6 separate regions of the Homo sapiens genome follow, and regions 1, 2, 4, 5 and 6 are each linked to region 3. The links come from fine-mapping of genetic effects on gene expression. A gene starts in region 3. Each other region holds a variant in brackets. All regions are shown on one strand. Distances are between the middles of the regions.

Region 1 (4,105 bases), 300 kb after region 3:
CTAATGAGTTTGTAGTTCTATTTTTATTATAATATTTTAGGAAGAATGTTTTTATTTTATATTGTGTTAAGTTTTATTATTCAAGCTTTAAAAGAAATGAAAATAAACAGGAAAATTAAACTTACCTATGGCTCAAATGCTTTACACAGTGATGTTTTGTATAACTCTTGTTAATCCTTCTAGCTCGGCAAAGGTAAGGGGGGAAAGTATGCATGCCTAATGTATATCTCTAACACCTGGCCCCCAAAACAGAGTTTTATAATCTTGGGTCCATTGATGATAATAAATTGATGACCAAGAATCTCAGAAGAATGTAGTGGATCCATCGGCTCCATGCCCAGCCCTCAGCAACCTTCTGCTTTACAGGAATGCAGTTCCTTTGTGTTTCCCAGGGCTGTGTTGTTAATAAAACATCTATCCTGGCATTGCCTCCTGCCACATTATCTCCCTTTTTTCTTCCAGTTATAACTGTCACTTTCTGGATAATTACATAGGGAACTCACAGTAATCTTCAGTAGAACTTAAGGTGATTTATTAAAGTTAGATGTAACTTCTATTGACAAAATGTGAATGAACCTGTTTTAATCACAACTTGCACATTTGTTAATATTTTTGAAAAATTTATCAGTAAAACATTTTTCTCTTCAGATATGAATATCACTGGGCAGATGGTACTAATATTAAAAAGCCAATCAAATGTTCTGCACCAAAATACATTGACTATTTGATGACTTGGGTTCAAGATCAGCTTGATGATGAAACTCTTTTTCCTTCTAAGATTGGTGAGTTAACATTGTCGAAGTATTCTTTCTTTTTTTAAAATTTTATTTTATTAATATAAATAGAGTTGGGGGGGTTTGCTGTGTTGTCCAGGTTGGTCTCAAACTCCTGGCCTCAAGTGATCCTCCTGCCTTGGCCTCCCACAGTGCTGGGATTACAGGTTTGAGCCACCGTATCCAGCCTGTTTCTCTTTTTGAATGATAAATCTGCTCTTTTTAACATTGTTATACTTGTAGAGACTGCCAAATTCTCCTCCAAAAAGTTTGTACCAACATGTACTCCCCCCAGCCCTGTTTGTGTTTGCCAGTGTTTCTTCACCAACACTGGTTATTACTCATTTTTTAATATTTTCTAATTTGGTTAAATTTCTGTTTTAATATGCATTTAAAAAATGTTGATGAGATTGAGCATTTTAGCCTTTTTGTTTGTTTTATTGATCATTGTGTGTTTTCTGTTTATATCTTTCATCTATTTCTGTGTAAAGGATATTAGCGCTTTGTCGTATGTGTTGTATATCTTTTTCCCCGGGTTACCTTTTGTCTCATTTTGTTCATGGAGTATTTTTGCTGTACACAACCTTACTATTTTGTCCTATTATATCTTTTATGACTTGATTTTAATATAACAATTAGAAAGCTTTTCCCTGCTTCAAGATTATAAAAATATTTATTCATGTTTTCTTTTTTTATTTTTTTATTTTTTGAGACAGAGTCTCACTCTGTTGCCCAGGCTGGAGTGCAGCGGCACAATCTTGGCTCACTGCAATCTCCACCTCCCAGGTTCAAGCAGTTCTCATGCCTCAGTCCCTGGGTAGCTGGGACTACAGGCACATGCCACCATGCCCAGCTAATTTTTGTATTTTTAGTAGAGATGGGGTTTCACCATGTTGGCCAGGCTGGTCTTGAACGCCTGACCTCAAGTGATCTACCTGCCTTGGCATCCCAAAGTGTTGGGATTACAGGCATGAGCCACCACGCCTGGCTGGGAAGTTTTTTTTCCCTGAATGCTACATTAATTTTTTTCCAAATGGAAATACTAGTCAGTTTGTCCCATTACCATTTATTAAACACATTTGCCTTTTCTCCCCTGATTATCTTATGTGCACAACAAATTGCCATATATTTTTGCATGTTTTAGTCTCTTTATCTGTTCCTATAGAAATTCCACACGTTGGTGACTGTGGCTCTGCATCTGTTAGCATCTTGTAAGGCTGGTCTCCCTTCCTCGCTCTTCTTTTTCAGAATATTCACAGCTATTCTGGGATATTTGTTTTTCCAAAGAACTTAGAAACATTTTGTCAAGGTGAAAAAAAAATTAGATTTTAATTATGACTATATTTAATTTTTATAGATAGGGATTCTTTTTACTGAATCTTCCTAGCCAAGAACAAGATATTGTTCATTTATTCATGTCTTTAGCTTTATTTTCTCTTGTAAAATTCTGTAGTTTATGTCAGTTGTTCAAGTTTCTTAATTTTATTCTAGGGATTTTATGTCTTTTATTGATAATCTGGTTTCCAGCTGGTTATTTAGTATATAGGAAAGCTGTTGGTTTTTATTGTAATTTATTTTTAATTTTTTTTGAGACAGGGTCTCACTCTGTTCCCCAGCCTGGAGTGCAGGGGTGTGATCACAGCTCTCTGCAGCCTTGATCTCCTGGGCTCCAGTGATCCTCCCACCTTAGCTTCCCAAGTAACTGGGACTGTAGGCACGCACCACTACACCTGGCTAATTTTGTTTATTTTTTGTAGA[G/A]ATGAGGTCTCATTATGTTGCCCAGGCTGGTCTCGAACTCCAGGGCTCAAGCATCCCTCCTTCCTTGGCCTTCCAAAAGTGTTGGAATTACAGGTGTCAGCCACCAGGACTGGCCAGCTGTTGATTTTTATTTAAATTTTATAATTAACCATCAGACTCTTTTTCTGTTAGTTTTTGGTTGGTTCTCTTGAATTTTTAAAGTATACAACTGTGTCATATTAAGATAGTGTTCATTTTGTCTCTTCCTTTCTGATAATGTATTCTTGTTTTTACGCTTGCTTATCTGATTGCACTGAGTGGTATTTCAAGCGCAATGCCGAGTAATGGTGATGATGGCAGACATCCGTTTCTTGCCTTCTTACTATTATGCAAGTACTTCTAGTATTTCTGCAGTAAGCCGAAATCTTGGCTTTTGGTTAGAGGTGTATGGATTTTTAAAAAATTATATTAATGAAAAATATCCACCATTTATATTACAAAAATTGTTCTTAACGAGGAATGGCTATAGAGTTTATCAGATGCTTTTCCAGTATCTGTTGCCTATGACCATAAGGTTTTCTCCATTTTTTAATAAAAATATTCTGCTGGAAGAGTATTTGTTAATATTTTGATTAAGAGTTTGGCATCAGTATTCATGGATGAAATCACTCCTTGTCATTTTCAACTTAAGAGTATTTTATGAGCAACATATTTTTGAATTCCTTTTTGCAGTCTTATAGAGGCTTTTCAGGACAACAGTTTTTTTCCAAGTTGTTAACATTTGGTCTGTTTGTTGTTGGTCAGTTTTTCCATTCTGCTATTAAACCTTTTATTTCCTTTCTCATATATCTTTATTTTATATTGACTGTGCTTGAATATATCTGTTAAATTCAGCTTGGAAAGTGTTTAGATTTAAACAAATTACTTATTTCTTTACTCATTAAAGTCTCTGCTTATGGAAGGTAAATAATTCTTTTGATTTATCCTCTTTTCTCTCTTTTTTGTTTGGAGACAGGGTCTCACTCTGTCACCCAGGCTGGAGGGCAGTGGCACAGTCTCGGCTCTACTGCAACCTCCACTTCCTGGGTTGAAGCGATTCTCGTGCCTCAGCCTCCAAGTAGCTGGGACTACAGGCGCCCACCACCACACCTGGCTAGTTTTTGTAGTTTTAGGTAGAGACAGGGTTTCACCATGTTGGCCAGGCTGGTCTCGAACTCCTGACCTCAAGTGATTCACCCACTTTGGCCTCCCAAAGTGCTGGAATTACAGGCATGAGCCACCATGCCTGGCTTTTTTCTCACTTTCTTGTTCTTAAATAATTCATTCTGATCCACCACCTCTTAATCCCACTCCCCTGCCATTAGGCTATTATCTGCATCTTACTTTTGCCAGTTATTTAGTCTCAGACAGAACTGTTTATCATTAATTTTTTACTAATATATGCACATTATTAATATCCTTTTATTAGAAAGATGCCCATTTATACATTCTGATAAAAAAAGATGTTTGATTTTGAAATCTACTTTTTTTTTTGAGACAGACTCTCACTCTGTTGCCCAGGCTAGAGTGCAGTGGTGCAGTTACAGCTCACTGTG
Region 2 (4,000 bases), 190 kb after region 3:
ATTTTATTATGGAAAATTCAAATTTATACAAAAGTAGTATATAGCAGAATGAACCCCCACCTGCCCATCACCCAGCTTCAACAGTTAACAGCTAACTCATAGCAATTCTTGTTTCTCTGTCCCCCACCTACTACCCCAGACACACAGACACACATGCTAGGTCAGGTTGACACAAATCCCAGACACCACATCATTCCATCTGTAAATATTTCATTATGTCTCTAAAAGATAAGGCCTCTTTCTTTCTTTTTAGAGATAGGGTCTTTCTCTGTCACTTCAGCTTCATTGCAGTGGTGCGATCACAGCTCACTGCAGCCTCAAACTCCTGGACTTAATCCTCCTACCTCAGCCTCCTGAGTAGCTGGGACTACAGGCATATGCCACCACACCTGGCTAATTATTTTATTTTTTGTATAGTGGAGTCTTGCTTTGTTTCTCAGGCAGGTCTCAAGCAATCCTCCCACCTCAGCCTCCCAGAGCGCTGGGATTACAAGTGTGAGCCACCATGCCCGGCTTCTGAGTATTTTTAAATATACTTAAACAAAATGAGTTTTAAGCTTTTTTTCCCCAGTCATTTCCTCATAGCGAGATCTCACCCAAAGTGATCAGTGAGGTCTTGCTACCCTCAAGCAGAAGGGAGCAAGCATTTAATGCAATTGATCTGGGCAGGAGACCATAAGGGGACACCAGAGAGGAAGAAATGGCACCTGTCTTCAAAAAGCTTAATGTATATTTGGCATTTGTTATATACCAAAACAATCATAAAACATGATTGGCTACAATTAATTATTAATTTAGGCACTGAGCCTGAATTAATTAATTATTTTAGGCTCTGAGCCTAAGAAGTTAGAAACTTTACCTAGGATAGTCTGGAGCACAGAGTTGCCTGGATCCCACCCGTTTTTATTCTGATGTCAACTGGTCTAGGATATGACTGAGACATGAAGATTTTAAAGGCATCTAGGGTATTCTTATATGCAAGCAAGCTTAAGAATCACTGTCCTAGAACAGTGGTTTCTAAAGTGCTTCAGGTTGAGAACCATCCTAGGGTGTTATAGGAGAAATAAGCAGAATAACTGGCAGAGGCTTTGTGGAGGAAGGGGCATTCTCGCTGGGCAGTGGAAAACAGAGAGGAAAGAGGACATTCTACATGATCTCAGAGGTGATCTGCAGACCAGCAGCATGAGCACACCTAGGAGCTTATTAGAAATGTAGAATCTTTGACCTCATTCCAGACCTGCTCAATGAGGATCTGCATTTTGACAAGATCCCCATGCACATTAGAGTTTGAGGCACACTGGTGTAGTAGAATATGTACTGTAAATGGACTTCAGTTATAAAATCAGAGAAACTAAAGCATAGCATGACTGTGCTAGAAAGGAGACCCTTTCAGCTAGTGTTCTTGGAGCCATTCTAAGGGAAAGAGGCCATGTCCTGCTGTATAATGAGAATCAGATCCATGTGAGCTACGTTTGCCTGCGTTGGGACCCCATATAAGTTGAACTATCCCTAAGTCACACCATTCTATGTACCTACAGAGCAGGGGCTCCTGAACCCACAGGGTGCAGTCAGATAACCCGGGAGTTTCCATGGCAGGGTCACCCTCCTGGTGGGGTAACCATCCAGGCATTGGTTTTTGTTTTGTTTTGTTTTGTTTTGAGACGGAGTCTCGCTCTGTCATCCAGGTTGGAGTGCAGTGGCATGATCTCTGCTCACTGCAAGCTCCGCCTCCCGGGTTCACGCCATTCTCCTGCCTCAGCCTCCTGAGTAGCTGGGACTACAAGCGCCTGCCACCACGCCTGGCTAATTTTTTGTATTTTTAGTAGAGACAGGGTTTCACCATGTTAGCCAGGATGGTCTCGATCTCCTGACCTCGTGATCCGCCTGCCTCTGCCTCCCAAAGTGCTGGGATTACAGGCATGAGCCACCGCGCCCAGCCCCAGGCATTGGTATTTTTATAAATCTCTCCAAGTTATTCTAATGGACAGCCAAGGTTGAAAACCA[T/C]TGCTATGGATCTTTGGTCCTCCATGTTTCCTTTTCCATTCAAGGTGAAAGTGAGCTAAATTTCTAGCTGTAGCCATTGAAAACACAAAATTAAGTTCCAGGTAGCAAGCTTAATGGTTCAACATCTGGATTCCCAAAATAGTTATAGAGGGGACTAGAGCGGTGTCCCTAGTTAAATGGTCTCATATTCCGGAATTTCTTAAATCAAATTTTCTGGATTCTGGTAGCAGAGTCTAGTTCTGGCATTGGCTTAAAATTGGAGACAAGTAATTTAGTGTTTATGCAGGCTATTCTCATGTGGGTTATCGCCCTTGTCTGTGTGTCTATGGGGTTAATGTTTGGTGTATGCCTAACACAGTACAAATAGTTGAAGTCCTGAGAGGTGGAGAGGACTGCATGTCTTTGCTATCTGCTATCTGGAGTTAGTAGAGGATGTTTCAAAGAGGAAGCATTGCTCTTATCACTCCTTCAGGTGGAGTTGCATTTGTATGGGCAGAAGACTGAAGAATGGGATGTCAGGGGAGAGAGCTGCCTGAGACTGTCTGGCCTAGGATGTTTGTGAGACAGTGAAGACAGCAACCCACTCAACTGGCCCCATGCACTGGGCCACATCACACCTTTAGGTGGGTGGGTAAGACCATGGAGTAGCAAAAGAGTCTTTGGGAGCAGGGTGACAGTTCAGTTTATCTTTTGTATTATTTTTGAGAAAAAAAAAACAATAAAAGGCAAGCTGAATAGGAGGTCGATCCTCAGGAAGAAAAGTTGAGCATCCTCTCAACTAAAACATTTGGACTGGCCGGGCGCGGTGGCTCACGCCTGTAATCCCAGCACTTTTAGAGGCGGAGGTGGGTGGACCACCTGAGGTCAGGAATTTGAGACCAGCCTGACCAACATAATGAAACCCTGTCTCTACTAAAAAACAAACAAACAAACAAACAAACAAACAAAAAACAAACAGCCGGGCCTGGTGGCAGGCACCTGTAATCCCAGCTACTCAGGAGGCTGAAACAGGAGATCACTTGAACCACGGAGGCAGAGGTTGCAGTGAGCCAAGCTTGCACCATTGCACTCCAGCCTGGGCGATGAGAGTGAAACTCCGTCTCAAAAAAAAAAAAATTTTGAACTTATCCTTTGGTCTATTCCTTGTAAACTCTTATGTTAATATACCTTTTAGAAACATCTTACTTTCGATATCACATAGTCTTGGATCTGCCATAATTTAAATGATATTTCCCAAACAGATTTCTCCACAAAAAGGTCAGCTACAACTTGTCTGCCTGGTCTCTGGCTCCAGCCCCCATGTTTCAGGTCTTCACCTCCCAGTCCTTCTCTAATTAGATCTCCCCATTCTGTGTCCATCTGATTCCCCAGGATCCCACCAGGTGCCTGGTTAACTTGTCTCAAATAAATGTATGGAATGAAGGTGTTAAACATAGATAATGCAAAATATACAGTTACGTGAAGAGGAAATCTGATGAAGGAAAAGATGTTCAATCTCACTAGTAATCAGAAGAGTGCAAATGTGAGATAATTTTTCAACTACCAAATGAACAAAGGTGAAAAAGAATGAAAATACCAAAGTCTGGGAGACTTTAGGGAAATGTAAGATCTCATTGGTGGCAGTGGGCACTGACATAAGCTTTCTGGAAAACAGTTTGGTAATGCTTGTTATAAATGTAAAAATGTGCAGACACAGTAATTCCACTTCTGAGAGTTTATCCTAAAGAAATTGTGGAGCAGGAACCAAGGATGTTCCAACCAGCCTTAATTAATAATAAAGAATAATTAGAAATAATCTGAATGTCTACCAGTTGAGAACTGTTCCTATCAATTATGGTACATTCAGACAGTGGAATACTAGAAGGACTTCAGAATGATGTTAATACTAATAGAGATGAAAGGATGTCCATTAGATACTATACCCTTAAGGTCCTTGTGGTGCCATTAATGTACAGTTAATGCAAACACAGGCATATGTGCATGCATGCACGAGGAG
Region 3 (4,105 bases):
CAGGCTGGTCTCGAACTCCCAGCCTCAGGTGATCCGCCCGCCTTTGCCTCCCAAAGTGCTGGGACTACAGGCTTGAGCCACTGCGCCTGCCCTAAGAGGCCTTATTCTAAAGTCAAAAGAACAACCTGGATTTGAGTTCCCCAGCTCCATAATTAACTGGCTGTTATTTTGGGTCAGTCTTAACTACTCTCCTCATCTGTAAAAATGGGGGTGGTCTGGCCAGGCGCGGTGGCTCACGCCTGTAATCCCAGCACTTTGGGAGGCCGAGGTGGGTGGATCACCTGAGGTCAGGAGTTCGAGACCAGCCTGGCAAACCTGGTGAAACTCCATCTCTACTAAAAATACAAAAATTAGCTGGGCGTGGTGGTGGGCACCTGTAATCCCAGCTACTCGTGAGGCTGAGGCAGGAGAATCACTTGAACCCTGGAGGCAGAGGTTGCAGTGAGCCGAGATCATGCCATTGCACTCCAGCCTGGTGACAGAGCGAGACTCCGTCTCAAAAAAAAAAAAAAAAAAAAAATGGGTATGGTTCAACATGCATTGAGTGCTGGCATTGTGCTTCTAGACTGTGAACTTGAGGTTGGGGCCATTTTCTCTGAGTCCCCAGCACCTTGCATAATGCGATATAGGGTGTACAATAAACATGTGTTGAATTTATAAATATTTAGCATCTGCCTTATGCCTATAATTGATTAGTACTGTGATACAAAGATGAAAAATGAAACAGGTATGTAATAAGTGCTACAATAAGGATGTCGACAAATGCAACGGTAGCAAGAAAGACAAAAACAGGACTAACCATTGGGTTTGGTCAGATGATTTCATAAGCAAAAAGTCTACCACTAGTGGAGAGTGGGGCCACCAGTCAGATTATAGTGAAATATAAGTGGTCGTGTTGCATAAAGCATCAGTCTCTCTCTCTCTCTCTCTCTCTCCCTCCGTCCCTCCCTCCCTCCCTCCATCTCTCTCTCTCTCTCTCTTTCTTTTTTTTTGAAACAGTTTCACTCTTGTTGCCCAAGCTGGAGTGCAATGGCGCAATATCGGCTCACTGCAACCTCCGCCTCCCAGGTTCAAGCAATTCTCCTGCCTCAGCCTCCCGAATAGCTGGGATTACAGGCACCCACCACCACACCCGGCTAATTTTTGTATTTTTAGTAGAGATGGGGTTTCACCAAGTTGACCAGGCTGGTCTCCAACTCCTCATGTCTGGTGATCCACCTGCCTCGGCCTCCCAAAGTGCTGGGATTACAGATGTGCGCCTCGGTGCCTGGCCACATCAGTCTTTTTTTTTTTTTTTTGAGACGAAGTCTCGCTCTGTCGCCCAGGCTGGAGTGCAGTGGCACAATCTCGGCTCACTGCAACCTCCGCCTCCCGGGTTCAAACGATTCTCATGCCTCAGCCCAACGTTAGATTGGTTTTTCCGAGCCTGTGAACTCCATGGGGTCGCCAGATAAACGCAATCCCGGTGGACCAACGCCCAGGACAGACGCTACGTACCAACCCTGTGTCAAGCCGCAGGCAGCGGTTCCGGACTCTGGGACTTAACCTAACGTGGCGGGGCGGGACTTCCGGCGGGAGGCGGAGGCGGAGGCGCAGGCGCTGGCTGGCAGGTGTCGCTAACCGGACGGTGGTCGCCAGGGCGAGAGGCGGGAGCCGGAGAGGTGAGGCAGGACCCGGGCTCCACTGCCGCCTCTCCGAGCTCTTGTGACGCGGACCTCAGTGCCAGGATGGCTCGGGGCGAGCGGCGGCGCCGCGCAGTGCCGGCAGAGGGAGTGCGGACAGCCGAGAGGGCGGCTCGGGGAGGCCCCGGGCGACGGGACGGCCGGGGCGGCGGGCCGCGTAGCACGGCTGGAGGAGTGGCTCTGGCCGTCGTGGTCCTGTCTTTGGCCCTGGGTATGTCGGGGCGCTGGGTGCTGGCGTGGTACCGTGCGCGGCGGGCGGTCACGCTGCACTCCGCGCCTCCTGTGTTGCCTGCCGACTCCTCCAGCCCCGCCGTGGCCCCGGACCTCTTCTGGGGAACCTACCGCCCTCACGTCTACTTCGGCATGAAGACCCGCAGCCCGAAGCCCCTCCTCACCGGTAACCGGGCCCCAGGGCGGGCAGGCAGGCGGACTCCTAATCTGGGCGCCCCAGCTTGAAGCGAGAGCAAGGGTGGGAAGGAATGGATCAGGAGAGTTATGAAGAGGGATGACCCGGAGACCCGGAGGGACAGGTCCCCTGCTCTTTGACTTACGTGGCCATTCTACCCCCAGGACTGATGTGGGCGCAGCAGGGCACCACCCCGGGGACTCCTAAGCTCAGGCACACGTGTGAGCAGGGGGACGGTGTGGGTCCCTATGGCTGGGAGTTCCACGACGGCCTCTCCTTCGGGCGCCAACACATCCAGGATGGGGCCTTAAGGCTCACCACTGAGTTCGTCAAGAGGCCTGGGGGTCAGCACGGAGGGGACTGGAGCTGGAGAGTGACTGTAGAGCCTCAGGTCAGGGCCTCAGGACACCCTTTTCTCAGCCCAGACCCCCTCCATCCTTCCCTTGCTGCCAGCAAATGCAGCATGAAGTGGGCTCTGGCTGCCTGGCTTAAATCCTGCCTTAAACAACTGCCTGTATAACCATTTCTATTTACCATCTCTAAGCCTTGATTTCCTTGCTTGTAAAATGTACAATGTAGATAATAATAGCACTTAACTCACAGGACTGTAAGAATTAAATGAAAAAGAGGCTGGGCGCGGTGGCTCACGCCTGTAATCCCAGTACTTTGGGAGGCCGAGGCTGGCGGATCACCTGAGGTCAGGAGTTCCAGACCAGCCTGACCAAAATGGAGAAACACCGTCTCTACTGAAAATATAAAATTAGCCGGGCGTGGTGGCGCATGCCTGTGATCCAAGCTACTTGGGAGGCTGAGGCAGGAGAATTGCTTGAACCAGGGAGGTGGAGGTTGCGCTGAGCCGAGATCGTGCCATTGCACTCCAGCCTGGGCAACAAGAGCAAAACTCCATCTCAAGAAAAAAAAAAAAGCCAGGCGCGGTGGCTCACGCCTGTAATCCCAGCACTTTGGGAGGCTGAGGCGGGCGGATCATGAGGTCAGGAGATGGAGACCATCCTGGCTAACACGGTGAAACCCGGTCTCTACTAAAAATACAAAAAATTAGCTGGGCGTGGTGGCGGGCGCCTATTGTCGCAGCTACTCGGGAGGCTGAGGCAGGAGAATGGCGTGAACCTGGGAGGCGGAGCTTGCAGTGAGCTGAGATCGCGCCACTGCACTCCAGCCTGGGCGACAGAGCGAGACTCCGCCTCAAAAAAAAAAAAAAAAAAAAAGAATTAAATGAAATCAACTGTGTAGAGTTCTTAGTGTAGGACATAGTACAAAAGTATACTGTTATCTCCCAGGGCACCCAGTGCAAGGCTCTTTATCTCATCCCGCTTGGGTGTACCTGGTTACCCTCAGTGACCCTCATTACTGCCAGACGTATGTTGTTTACATTACCCCTGCCTACTGTTCCTTTCCCTCACTAAGGCTGATTCTCAAGAGGGAATTCAAGAGAGAATGCCAATCTAACACTGTTCTTTTCTGTCCTCGTTGGTCACTCAGGACTCAGGTACTTCTGCCCTCCCTTTGGTCTCCCTGTTCTTCTATGTGGTGACAGATGGCAAGGAAGTCCTACTACCAGAGGTTGGGGCCAAGGGGCAGTTGAAGTTTATCAGTGGGCACACCAGTGAACTTGGTGACTTCCGCTTTACACTTTTGCCACCAACCAGTCCAGGGGATACAGCCCCCAAGTATGGCAGGTAACTGGGGGAAAAGAATGTTGGGGGATGGAAGGGGTGGTTATTCCCATTTTCACCAGTCTCCATGTCCCCTGCCTGAGACCTCCCAACCTGACTCCTGAACACTTTGTATTTCTCTTTATAATGCCCACTGCCTTCTCTTGAATAATATTTCCTATTTATCTTCTCCCCTTCAAGCTACAATGTCTTCTGGACCTCCAACCCAGGACTGCCCCTGCTGACAGAGATGGTAAAGAGTCGCCTAAATAGCTGGTTTCAGCATCGGCCCCCAGGGGCCCCCCCTGAACGCTACCTCGGCTTGCCAGGATCCCTGAAGTGGG
Region 4 (4,105 bases), 180 kb before region 3:
TAATAGGGCCCTGCCAGAGGGAGAACCATTGAATCGTTTATCACGCGACAAAGTGAATGAGGGCTTGTAAAGGGGCCCTAACCTAGAATGCTCAGCACGGAACAGAACATCCGCAGAGGCAGACACAGCGAGAAGCCGATCTGTGAGAGGTGGATCTCCCGGGGTGCGGGCAGGGGAGGGCCTAGTGTGAGGATGGAGAGTTGGGCAGAAGGCACAAGCAGAACTTTAGGGCCAGGGTAAAGATATTGGATTCTGTTTCCAGTGGTGTAATTGGAAGTCCTTGGAGGGTTTTTAGTTTGGGCATAACTTGGTGGTTTGGAGTGGTTCAAGGCCCAGTTCCAGTTTTAACCAGTTTGCAGGGAGAATTCATTAAGCGAGTGTTCTTGGCAAAAGTGGAGAGTATAGGGTCAGAATAAGGTCAGAGCCTGTTTAGTACTATGCCCAGACACATCAGATGCATGAATTGATGATGTTTGAGGATGTAAGGAAGAGAGCTGCCTCTTACCTCATTTAAAATACAGTCTTCCAATTGCACATTAGTGTGGGATTGAAAAATGACTGCAAGCTGAAACCATTCAAAGAGATCTTAAACACCAATGGGAAAAATTACAGTTGTTCTATAACCTTGAAAAATTGTCAAAACACTAAAACTTTCTTACTAACTGTATAGGGAAATGTAAAACAGTAAAACTATTTCATACACTAACTTAAAACATTAGAAACATTGAGAGCTAAAGTGTTTTATTTGTTGAAAAAAAACTCTCATAGTAAAACTTATGAGAGAGCAAACATTTTTTGTGTGTCTTGGCAAACTGACATACTTCTTTCTAAGTTTGGGTTAGTTTCCTACATTTTATCCTTTGTACCTTCAATTTTGTAAAATATCTCTGAAAGTTTCTTTAATAATGAAGCTTTTTGCCAGTGGCCCTTTCTGTAGGATGTCTTCATCCTTTTCATCACAATGACTTTCCTCAAGTATGTTGATAAGTTTGCCTTCACTAAATTCCTCTGGCTGCTTCTCTAGAGTCTATCAGGTGGAGGCAGTGTCAACACTCTCATAGTCAGCTGTTTCTCCTTTAACTCCACTTATGTTAGATTCAGATTTCACTCCTGGCATTATCATTTTTTATTTCTTTGCTGCTCCTTTTATCGGCTAGTTTCCTCTTTCAGTTTTTGTTTTTATAAAACATCACATGGGCTTATCACTAGGAGACAAGGAGGCGACACAACTACACACTTCTGTCTGTGCTTTAACTGACTAATGGATCTGCAGTGACGGGTCACCAACAGACTTTGAAAGAAGTGATATAATTAATTACTGATCATGATGCACTGATCACTATATTATATCAGTACGCTATATCAGTATACTATACTATTGATACTGATAACTAGTAATTCGTGAACTAAAGAGCTAGATACTACTTTATGTAATTACAGTTAATATTCCATGGTAACTGAAATTTGAACTGTGTTGTTGGAAGACTAGTGTTAATTAACTAAACTGTAGTAACTGAAATCTATATACTTGAACCATGCAAAATGAGGACTGCCTCTACTTTATTTTTTTATTTTTATTTTTTTCAAGGGTGAGCTGGTGATGTTAAACAGCAACTTTTATTAAAGCAGCAGTGTACAGCAGCAGCAGAGGTACTGCAACTGTGGAGCAGGGCTACCCCATAGGCAGTGTGCCCAGAATAGCAGCTCAGAGGTAGTTCAGCAGTCATAGTTATACCCAGTTTTAATTACATGCAAATTAAGGGGGAGTTGATGCAGAAATTTCTAGGAAAAGCATGGTAACTTCCAGGTCATAGAGTCGTTGCTATAGAAAGGGATGGTAACTTCTGAGTGTTGCCATGGCAATGGTAAACTGACAGGGCACACTGGTGGGCATGTCTTATGGAAAGCTGCTTCCACCCTCGCCCTGTTTAAGCTAGTCCTCAATTTGGTCTGGTGTCCAAGCCCTTCCTGCAGAGTTGAGTCCCGCCTCCTACCTCACTATCAAAACTAAACTCATACGTGCCTTATGGCCCAGCAATACTGTGTCCAGAATTGGTGGGTTCTTGGTCTTGCTGACTTCAAGAATGAAGCCGCGGACCCTGGCGGTGTTACAGTTCTTAAAGATGGTGTGTCCGGAGTTTGTTCCTTCTGATGTTCGGATGTGTCTGGAGTTTCTTCCTTCTGGTGGATTCATGGTCTCGCTGGCTTCAGGAGTGAAGCTGCAGACCTTTGCAGTGAGTGTTACAGCTCTTAAGGCGGCGTGTGTGGAGTT[T/G]TTCATTCCTCCCGGTGGGTTTGTGGTCTCCCTGGCCTCAGGAGCGAAGCTGCAGACCTTCACGGTGAGTATTACAGCTCATAAAGGCAGTGCGGACCCAAAAAGTGAGCAGCGGCAAGATTTATTGCAAAGAGCGAAAGAACAAAGCTTCCACAGTGTGGAAGGGGACCTGAGCAGGTTGTCCTGCCTCTACTTTAAAATGGCGTTTTCAGATGTGAGAGATGGAGATGGATAATTAAATTTAATTATACATTAAATAAGGCCTCTGACTACCTGTTTGTGTGAATTTCTCTGTGTCAGCTTCAAGTTCAGCATTCCATGTAGAAATTGGCCCCATGTACTTAAAGTACAGTTTAAAAATATGTTATGTGCTTTCTTGGTAAATACATTAGTAATTGATTTGGGTTTCTGGTTCAAGATGACTTTCAACAGATTAGCATATTAATTCATTTATTTTTCTAGCTGTATCCAGCACGTAATTGGAACTCAATTTTTAAAAATGTTGAATGAACAAATGCTGACTTCCACTATCCAAAAAGGGAAGTTTGAAGAGAATAACTTCACTGATTCATTTGGGGAAATACATCTATCTATGTATTTTTTTTTTTTTTTTTGAGACGGGGTCTCGCGCTGTCACCCAGGCTGGAGTGCAATGGCGCGATCTTGGCTCACTGCAACCTCCGCCTCCTGGGTTCCAGCGATTCTCCTGCCTCAGTCTCCTGAGTAGCTGGGATTACAAGCGCGTGCTACCACGCCCGGCTAATTTTTGTATTTTTAGTAGAGATGGGGTTTTACCATGTTGGTCAGGCTGGTCTCAAACTCCTGACCTTGAGATCCACCCGCCTCAGCCTCTCAAAGTGCTCGGATTACAGGCGTGAGCCACTGCGCCCGGCCTATCTATGTATTCTTAGATCATTTTTAAAGATTCTAAATTCCAAAGTGTTTCTGAAAATTATCATAATTATCTTTGTATTGTCACAGGGGAAATCAAATAAGCTTTAATTTTCCCTACATTCTTTAGCTAAAAACAATTATATAGAATGATTTTAGTTCTCAGAGGTGGGGACATATTTTTTAGCTATCTTTTTTATCATATTTCTTTTGTTTTCTTTTGATTGTCCTAATGTTCTTCTTGAAATATTTTTATTATTAAATATAACATATATACAGAAAATGTCATAAAACATGAATGTGTAGTTTAATAGTAGAAAGTGAATACCCAATATCCACAATAAAGATCAAGAAATAGAACATTAGGCTGGAAGTGGTGGCTCATCCCTGTAATCCCAGTACTTTGGGAGGCCAAGGTGGGAGGATTGCTTGAGCCCAGGAGTTTGAGACCAGCCTGGGCAACATGGCAAAACCCTGTCTCTACCAAAAAAACACACAAATTAGAGAGGCATTGTGGTGCATGCCTGTAGTGCCAGGTACTTAGGAGGCTGAGGTGGGAGGATCACTTGAGCCTGGGAGGTGGAGGTTGCAGTGAGCTGAGATTGGGCCACTGCTGCACTCCAGCCTGGGCGATGGAGCGAGACCCTGTCTCAAAAAAAAAAAAAAAAAAGAACATTACCAACACCCCAGGACCCCCTTCTTTTGTCTCTTCTCATCATAATGCCTTCATTCTTTCCTAGGGAAAATCACTACCCTCATTTTTGTGATAATCAATTCTTTGCTTTTCTTTATAATTTTATCACTGTGTATGCACCTCTAAACAATATAACTACTTTTGCTTATTTTTAAAATGTAGATGAAATCATGCTACATGTGTATGTATTCTTTGTGTCTTGCTGCTTTTACTCAATATTATGTTTCTTAGAATCATCCATGTTGCCA
Region 5 (4,105 bases), 27 kb after region 3:
GGGCACAGAGATGCAGGACAGATTGCACATCCTGGAGGACCTGAATATGCTCTACATTCGGCAGATGGCACTCAGCCTGGAGGTAATCCCCCGACCCTTGGAGTACACACCTCCTTCACTTGCATCCCAGCCCCAATCTCTGCCCTGCCCATTCCTGCTACAGCATGGTGGGGAGAGCCAGGCCTGCTTAAAGTGGGAAGAGGGACAGGTGGTTCCCTATGCCTTGTGTTGGGTGCAGTGTGTGGACCCAGGCTCAGTTCTGCCCATCATAGTCTTATGTTTGCAGCAGGGTCTTTACACCTATTTCAGGAAGCTCTGTGGGTGAGTGTAAATGTCTGTTCTGGGGACAAGGGTTCCTTTTAGGCATGGGAAGAAGAGAGGAGTTCAATGTGAGAGAGGTTTACAGAAAGGATGTAGCCTTGCTAGAGAAGAGAAGGACTCTGGGCTATGAGTAAGGATTCTGCTGGCCCTTGAGACAGCAAGGTGCTGTTTATTCGTGTATTTGTTTTTTTCAATTCTTTACAGAGACGAGGTCTCACTATATTGCCCAGGCTGGTCCTGGCTCAAGTGATCTCCCTACCTCGACCTCCCAAAATGCCGAGATTACAGGCGTGAGCCACTGCACCTTGCGCTATGTATTATTAAACACATGTAAATTTTATGTACTATCTGCCAAGCTCTTTTCGACCATAGGATACCTCAGTGAATAAGACAAGAAAGTTCCATTGTAGTGGGAGAACAGAAATATACATACGAACACATAAATAATATCACATAAAGAAATTATGATGAAAATGGGGATGTAATGAAAATCAGATGAGGGAGGCAATGTTAGATGTGGAGGTCAGGGGAAGCCTCTGTTGGGAGATCTTTGAGCTAAGCCCAGGAGGATTTGGAGATATGTGAAGACTGGAGGAAGGGCAAAGGCCCTGATATGAGGATGAGGGTAATATATTTGTGGGAAAGAGAGAGCCAGTGTGGCTGGAATATAGTAGTTGGGGTGGAGCTGATGGGCAGGGGCCAGATCATGCAGGGCCTTGAAGGCCATGATAAGGCACCTGGATTTCACCTTAAGTGTGATGTTGGGCCATGGAAGGGTTTTAAGCAAGGGAATGACTCATGCCATGTTTTTAAATGATGGCTGCTATGGAGAATAGGCTGGTGGGAAGTTGAGGGTAGGGTTGGGGGTGGAGGGTTGGCAAGAGAGTTCGCAAATGTCCACCAGGTGGGAGGCTGTTTCACTCCCACTTCAGGTGGGAGTGAACCTGGTGGTGTGAATTAAAATGCTCATGGTGGAGAAAGGGAGTAGATTTCAAATGGTGGTGGTAGGTCTGACAGGATTTGCTGATGGATTGGATGGGAGGGCAAAGAAAGAGAACTCCAGGATGATTCCCAGGTATGTGGCTAAGCAACTGGGTGGTGTGGCTGTTTACGGAGATGGGGAAGATGGAGGAAGTTGTGGAAGTGACTGCCTGGACCAGGCAGGGGCTGCTGCTGAGAGGTCAGAGGCAGGACTGCAAAGAGTCTAGATCAGGAATGGCAGGATATTGTATGTGCTGTCCCCCCTCAAGCCCTGCCCCCACTCCCTGGATCATAGTAGATGTTACTGGTCAATTTTGGCACTCTTTATCAACGAGCCCAGACCTGGCCTCAGAATCTTTCTCAGGACCGTCTTGGCATAAACTGTGCAGGTTGTGTCCTTCACACAGGTGCCAGCCAGAGGTGAGAGTCCTGGTCTGGTTTCAGCGGCATCAGGAGGGAGCACGTTTATCTAATTTGTTTGCCTGGAGAGGGTCAGCTTTTTCTAATTTGTGGAAAGGTGTCCAGTGAACTCGTTGGGACTCTACCTAATTATCCTCCATCAGTGCATGAGATAAAACCTATTTGCCATTCATAGTCCTCTGCACTGTCCACATCAGTTACATATGGCTATTTAAATCTTACTTTTAGTTCATTAAAATAAAACAAAACATTAATTCCTTAGTTGCTGTAGCCATATTTCAAGTGCTAGATGGCTACTGAACATTTCCATCACCGCAGAAGGTTTTATTGGACAGAGCTGGTCTAGGTATGTAAATGTTTAAATTCTGCATCCTACCCTCCTCCAAAAAATGTAAATTTTCTCTGTGGAAGGCCTGTTCAAGTTCTGGGGCAGAGGAGATGCTTAGTTTCACTTTGGTCACTCTCCTTTAGGAGAGTGGCTGAGGGTGCTGTGTTCTTTCTCAACCAAGTTCAGCAGGTCCTCAAAAGAGAGACCCATTGATGTTTCAGGGAATGGCAAAAGAGATAGTC[G/A]TGGAAGAGTAAATCCAAGAAGACTTTCTGGAGGAAGTGACTCAAGTTGCAAGTAAAGGGGGCTTATTTTAAAATATGTGCTAGGCCCAGGTAGAGATGAGACTTTCCCATATAATTCTCAAACAATGCTACGAAGGAGGTGGAATACTCCCCATTTTACAAACTCAGGTTCCAGGGGTCAAATTCTGTGGGCTTGTCAAGTCCCTAAACCAGGATTTGTACTTAGCCCTGGTGGAGATTCTGAAGGGAAAAAAGGGTAGTGAGAAGCAGAGCAGGAAGTCAGAGACTTAAGAGAGTGGGAGGGGTGGAAGGGATATCAACAGGGGGCCTAATGTGTGTGGGGCCCATGACTCATCCTCTAGCCCCTTGGGATCTGACCCGGGTCCAGCTGACACCCAGCTCTGCGCTCTTTCCCAGGGGAAATGCTGCCCGCTTGGGGAGAGGGTGTGTTTGGGTGGGGAGGGGGCAACAAGGAACTATCCCTGGGTTGGGGAAACGCTAGAAGCACAAGGGTCCAGATCCTGAGCCAGGATTCCCAGTTCCTCTGCCTGAAAGGGTGGGAGCCAGTTTCCTAGGGCGCTCCCGGCCTTGGGCCTTGGGAGAGTGGATTTGGGGCTGGAGATCAGTAGGGAAATAGAGGAGGTGTCTGGACTCGTGGTCCCACTCATCCATGCTGGGCCCAGTGACCTCCCTAGGGCCCCAGCTCTCCCAATTTATACACTATTCGCCCTCCATACTCTCAGGCAAGGGGTCACCTTGGAGGGCAAACGCTACGCGGGAGGGGCCTCCCGGAGCTGGAGCACGTCGTGAAGGCCAGGAGCCTTTTCCAGGGCGGCGCGGGCGCACTCCTGGAGGTCCGGTCCCGCCGCGATGGAGTCTCGGTGGAGGCACCGCCTTGAGCCAAGCCCAGCCAGGTGCCCGGAGGGACCTCCAGCGCCCTGGTACCCCTCAGTTGCTCTCGCGGCAATTGGGAGCTGATGTCACCGGCGTCCTGAGCGCTGCAGCTGGAGGCGGTGCAGCTATGCTGGCGCCCTGGCTCCTCCGATTTCCCGCGGCCCTCGGACCCAGCCGGCTCCCCAGGCCAGTGCAGCTCTCTGGACCTCGCGCGCCTCTGCGCGCCTCTCGCAATGGAGCGGGCTGGGGAAGGATCCGTGAGTGCTGGGACTGGGATGAGACTAGCCAAGATGGGGGTTGAGGACACCTCCGTGTCCCCCTCCTGCCAGGCTCACCCATTTGGGATGTTTGTGGCTGAAGCTGGGTGCAGACTGGGGTGGGGGTTGTCGGGCAGCGCAGAACCCTGGTGCAGACAAAACTAGACTGGGAGGACCTATGTAGTCTGAAAGGGCTTCCTGGTGAGGGGCTTTGGGAAAGGGTTGGCTTATTACAGAAGGAAAACGGGTGGATGGTGATGGGGGAAGGTGATAAAAGTCCGGCCTAGCACAGTGGCCCAGAAAATAGCCAAGGAAGCATCTGTAGGCAGGCAGGACAAGGCTTTTTAGAAGAGGGAATTTAGGGTGTTCGGGTCTGAGAGACTTGAAGGCTGGAGCCACTAGGGACAGATGCAAGGGCACAGTGTATGGAGGAGAGCTGGTGTGAGGAAAAAGACAGGTTTGGAGTGGTCACATTAGTTCCCCTGTTTCAAATGGATGGCTCGACTTGTCTCCTGAACCAATCTGTACACTGTGATAGAGTTAGTCTTCCAACTCCTCTCTGAAGCTTTCCTTGATCACCTCAGCCAGAAGCAAACAGAGGCTGTTTCTTGTGAGCATGGTTGTGCCATGACATGGCACTTATGGAGCAGCCATTAAAGTCA
Region 6 (4,105 bases), 52 kb after region 3:
ACCACAGGATGCGCCGCAAGGCGGCCGTGAAACGCCTGGACCCTGCGAGGCTCCCGTGCCACTGGGTGCGCCCTCTGGCTGAGGTCCTGGTCCCAGACTCTCAAACACGCCCCTTGGAAGCCTACCGCGGACGCCAGCGGGGCGAGAAGACCAAGGCCCGGGCCGAACCCCAAGCCCTCGGCCCCGGCACCCGTGTCTCCCCGGCAGCGTTCTTCCCTCTCCGGCCAGGCATTCCTTTCCGTGACTTGGACTCGGGCCCCGCACTCCTGTTCCCCACTTTAAATTTAGGCCTATCGTCGCCATCCCTCGAGTCAAAGCTGCCACTCCCAAACTCCAGGATCCGCTTCCTCACCACACACCCGGTGCTCCCTGATGTGGCCCGCAGCCGCAGCCCCAAGCTGTGGCCCAGTGTCAGGTGGCCCAGCGGTTGGGAGGGGAAGGCCGAGCTGCTGGGCGAGCTGTGGGCTGGCCGGACCCGCGTGCCTCCACAGGGTCTGGAGCTGGCAGACAGGGAGGGCCAGGATCCTGGCAGATGGCCTCGAACCACACCCCCGGTCCTTGAAGCCACTTCCCAGGTGATGTGGAAGCCCGTGTTGCTGCCAGAAGCCCTGAAGCTGGCCCCTGGTGTGAGCATGTGGAACCGGAGCACCCAGGTGTTGCTCAGCTCTGGTGTGCCTGAACAAGAGGACAAAGAAGGTAGCACCTTTCCTCCCGTTGAGCAACATCCCATCCAGACAGGTGCCCCAAAGCCCAGGTGACCGTAGCACAGCTAATGAAGAACTCAGCCCCCAAAGTGTGGTCACGCTCCTCTAAGCCTGCTGCCTCCCTCTGATCCCTGAGCCTCTGGCAGTAGTAACTGGTCCCTCCCTCTGCTAGCCAGAAATAAACACCTGAGTTGCCTTAGGAACTAGTCTGATGTCTCTTGTCAGTTTCTTCCAAGGGTGTCCACCCTCTCACTGAACCCCAAGGGGAGCAGTTATCCTGCAGGCCTAGAAGAAGATAGAACCAGGGTTCAGGAAATAACCCTCTCGCCACCCTTAGGAGACCCTGCATTAGGGCCAAAGCTGCCCCATTGCAGAGGCATTCTAGAGAAACCCCTGTCCCCCAAAGGAGTAGACATAAGGGCTGCCAGCGGGTCTGGCTCTGTAGAGAGAACTTCGAGTCTCCTTTCAGTAGGGGAGGAAGGAGAAGGCCCCGCATAAGCACAGAGTGATTCGAGATATGAAGAACTTGATTTCTTGCTTCCCTGGTCCCTGGAGCTTGGTCACTTCACCTTAGACTGCAAATCCAAATTTCACTTTTGAAGTTAAGGAGGAACTCTCAAACTCAAACAGTATATTGAACAAACTCAAGAGTCAGTGCCTCCTTAAATTTTATCTTAGGCTCCACACCTGCCTCATTGCTAGTCTCCACTCTGCCCAGATTTATCCTGCACCCACTTCCTCCTACAGCATTTCCCCAGCAGGCCCAGGAAGTTTCTGCTATGTTGCTGTGGGCTGCACTCAGCATCCTGGTCTGGGGCGCTGGCTCTGTCTTCCTTATTCTGGTCTTCTTCAACTACATGTGCAGCTCTGGCAGAAGTCTCATCCCTGGGACCTCCAGTGCTGCTCCACAGATCTGACTGGGAAAATAGCCATAGTGACTGGGGCCAACAGTGGTGAGTGCTCCTCCCACCCTGAATCCTCACTATGGGCCTCAGCCTCCAACAACTCTCACAGGGAAGGCAGGGAGGAGCATCCACTATCAACACCCTTGTCCCTCCCCTAGAGTGTCCCTTGTTCACTGTAGTCACCACCCAGCCGAAGTTGTCCTCCCACAGGCATCGGGAAGGTTGTATCCCAGGACCTAGCTCGGTGTGGGGCCCAAGTGATCCTTACTTGTCAGAGCAGGGAATGTGGACAGCAAGCCCTGGCTGAGATCCAAGCAGCCTCAAACAGCAACCGCCTCCTGCTTGGCGAGGTGGACCTT[A/T]GCTCCATGACCTCTATTCGGAGCTTTGCCCGGAGGCTTCTACAGGAGAATCCTGAGATACATCTGCTGGTAAACAATGCTGGAGTCAGTGGTATGTGCCTGGCTTGCTTCTCCAAACATGTTTCTGCAGTCTCCTTTCTAGCTCAGGAACTCTAAAACAGGTATCCTCAAAGCCTAGTCTATGCAATCTTGCCAAAACACTAATCCATACCCTCCCCTAAAAAGCTGACATTGAGTTATAGCCTTAAACTTCATTGCCCCCATCTTCACATGTATGTGCCCCTGTGGCATTTCTGCTGAAGGTAATATGTCCCTCCCAGACCTTGTCTCCCTCAAGGTGGTCCCTTTATCACTCAATGCCAGTGTTTTCATTTCCTCCCAGGATTCCGAAGACACTTACCCCAGGGGGCCTGGATCTCACCTTTGTCACTAACTATGTTGGGCCCTTTCTGCTCACAAATCTACTCCAAGGTAAGGAAGGATGGGCACCTTCTGTGCTGCCCTCTTCCCTATACCCCTGGCATTCTAGTAACTGTCTCCCAGGACCACCTCTTGCCTCTTGGCACCCAGCTGTTTGCTGAGTGGTGACCCAACACACTTTTTGTGTCACACATCAGGGAAGCCCAGCTGGCACAAGTCAGTATTAGAAGGCTGATAGAAGAATCATTCAGCCCAAAATATAATCAGCAAGGGGATATGAGATCCCAGACCTCCTTCTCCCATCCCCTAGTTCTAGCCAGACCAGTAGAGTAGTTTTTGCAATGAAGGCTTCTTGAGGGGGACACTAGGCACCAGAAACAGAGAAAGCAAGAAGACTCAGTTTCTGTTCTCAGGGTCGGCCAGAGGTGTAGGCCATACAGATGATACAGTTGATACATTACTGCCTTGGGCCTAAGTCCTTTGAAGAGGCCCTTTCTGATTGAGAAAGTTTGGCTCCTCCAGGGAAAGTTTCGGGGAGTGGGTGGCAGGAACATTCTCTCTGACATTTTCTCCTAGATTGTATAATAGCCCCTTTATTATTATTATTATTTTTTAATTACTCATCCCCTTGCAATGTGATAGCCTCCTTAAAAGAAAAGCAATTTTTCTTTTGGTCAGGTAATACATATCCAAAGTACAAAATTGAAAGTGTACAAAAGGATACAGAGGGTTTTTTTTTTTAAACTATTTTTCTCTTCTGGTACATAAGCCACCTGTTCCCCTCCTGAGAGGCAACTACTGTTGCCGGAGTCTCACGTATCCTTTAGCAGTCAACTAAATTAATCCCAATTGGAAAGTGAACAAAGGCAAAACTCTATGCACCTGCAAGTATGATTGTTTTTGTCCCTTTCCACAAATTGTAACATGTCACGACACTATCTGCATCTTGCTTAGTGACAGTTTCTTAAACTTCTTTCCTGTCTCATCTTCTCTAATCTATTCTCCCCACTGCCACATCGAGTAATCACCTTTCATCATGACACTTTCTTGCTTAAAATCCTTTGAAGGTAACCTCTCCTTTGTAGGATGAACTCTAAGCCCCTTCTCTACACTTAGAAGGCTGTGTGCTAGGCTGGGTGCAGTAGCTCATGCCTGTAATCCCAGCACTTTGAGAGGCTGAGGTGGGCAAATCACCTGAGGTTGGGAGTTTGAGACCGGCCTGATCAACATGGAGAAACCCCGTCTCTACTAAAAATACAAAATTAGCTGGGCGTGGTGGTGCATGCCTGTAATCCTAGCTACTCGGGAGGCTGAGGCAGGAGAATTGCTTGAACCCGAGAGGTGGAGGTTTCAGTGAGCCAAGACCGCGCCATTGCACTCCAGCCTGGGCAACAAGAGTGAAACTCTGTCTCAAAAAAAAAAAAAAAACCCTCTGCTGACTAAGAGCCTTGCCTTTTGCCCTTCCTTAACCCACCTCCTAGTCTCCAGCCAGACAATCTGCAGCTCTTGGACCACGGTCTGTTTTTTTTCACCCTCTGGCTGTGTTTTTGCACATACGGTTCCTTCTATCTGGAATATCCTTTCTCATCATGTTGGCCTGGCTAACTTTAGTTCACCTGCCAAGACGCAGCACAGATATCACCTCTGCTGTGGATCTTTCCCCAACCTTCACCTCCCCCAGTCACCCCTATTTATGGGGCTCCATTAGCCCCCTTGT

Direction of the effects. Positions count from the first base shown, and alleles are read on the strand shown. Sizes are in standard deviations (SD) of each study's normalised expression. Not every link is listed here.
For the expression in CD4 T cells of the gene that starts at base 1,593 in region 3, A is the low allele of the variant in region 1 and G is the other (large effect, 1.1 SD a copy in BLUEPRINT).
For the expression in liver of the gene that starts at base 1,593 in region 3, allele G in region 5 goes with a lower level than allele A (moderate effect, 0.46 SD a copy in GTEx).

The links. PIP is the estimated chance that this variant, and not a neighbour inherited with it, causes the effect.
Region 1: its variant is the best candidate, but not a certain one, in a credible set for the expression of MOGS in CD4 T cells (BLUEPRINT, PIP 0.58).
Region 2: its variant is the best candidate, but not a certain one, in a credible set for the expression of MOGS in prostate (GTEx, PIP 0.52).
Region 4: its variant is the best candidate, but not a certain one, in a credible set for the expression of MOGS in lung (TOPMed, PIP 0.53).
Region 5: its variant is the best candidate, but not a certain one, in a credible set for the expression of MOGS in liver (GTEx, PIP 0.63).
Region 6: its variant is the best candidate, but not a certain one, in a credible set for the expression of MOGS in thyroid (GTEx, PIP 0.57).

Annotation. Positions count from the first base shown.
Region 1 is chr2:74,161,895-74,165,999 of GRCh38, reverse strand. It overlaps MOB1A (MOB kinase activator 1A), which reads left to right. Exons shown (of 6, transcript NM_018221.5): 4 at 649-782. Among named protein-coding and RNA genes, the nearest start is that of MOB1A, 15 kb to the left of the region's middle. The variant G/A (reference allele first, on the strand shown) is at 2,532.
Region 2 is chr2:74,268,331-74,272,330 of GRCh38, reverse strand. All of the region lies in intron 8 of SLC4A5 (solute carrier family 4 member 5), which reads left to right. Among named protein-coding and RNA genes, the nearest start is that of MTHFD2, 72 kb to the right of the region's middle. The variant T/C (reference allele first, on the strand shown) is at 2,005.
Region 3 is chr2:74,462,870-74,466,974 of GRCh38, reverse strand. MOGS (mannosyl-oligosaccharide glucosidase) reads left to right here and starts at 1,593. Exons shown (of 4, transcript NM_006302.3): 1 at 1,593-2,079; 2 at 2,253-2,479; 3 at 3,589-3,785; 4 at 3,963-4,105. The coding sequence starts at 1,728. RefSeq lists a silencer at 1,807-2,026.
Region 4 is chr2:74,643,319-74,647,423 of GRCh38, reverse strand. All of the region lies in intron 1 of M1AP (meiosis 1 associated protein), which reads left to right. Among named protein-coding and RNA genes, the nearest start is that of M1AP, 3.0 kb to the left of the region's middle. The variant T/G (reference allele first, on the strand shown) is at 2,273.
Region 5 is chr2:74,435,528-74,439,632 of GRCh38, reverse strand. All of the region lies in intron 1 of RTKN (rhotekin), which reads left to right. Among named protein-coding and RNA genes, the nearest start is that of RTKN, 4.4 kb to the left of the region's middle. RefSeq lists enhancers at 1-245, 2,380-3,059. The variant G/A (reference allele first, on the strand shown) is at 2,293.
Region 6 is chr2:74,410,982-74,415,086 of GRCh38, reverse strand. C2orf81 (chromosome 2 open reading frame 81) reads left to right here. Exons shown (of 3, transcript NM_001316764.3): 3 at 1-910. The coding sequence ends at 758. Among named protein-coding and RNA genes, the nearest start is that of C2orf81, 8.6 kb to the left of the region's middle. The variant A/T (reference allele first, on the strand shown) is at 1,969.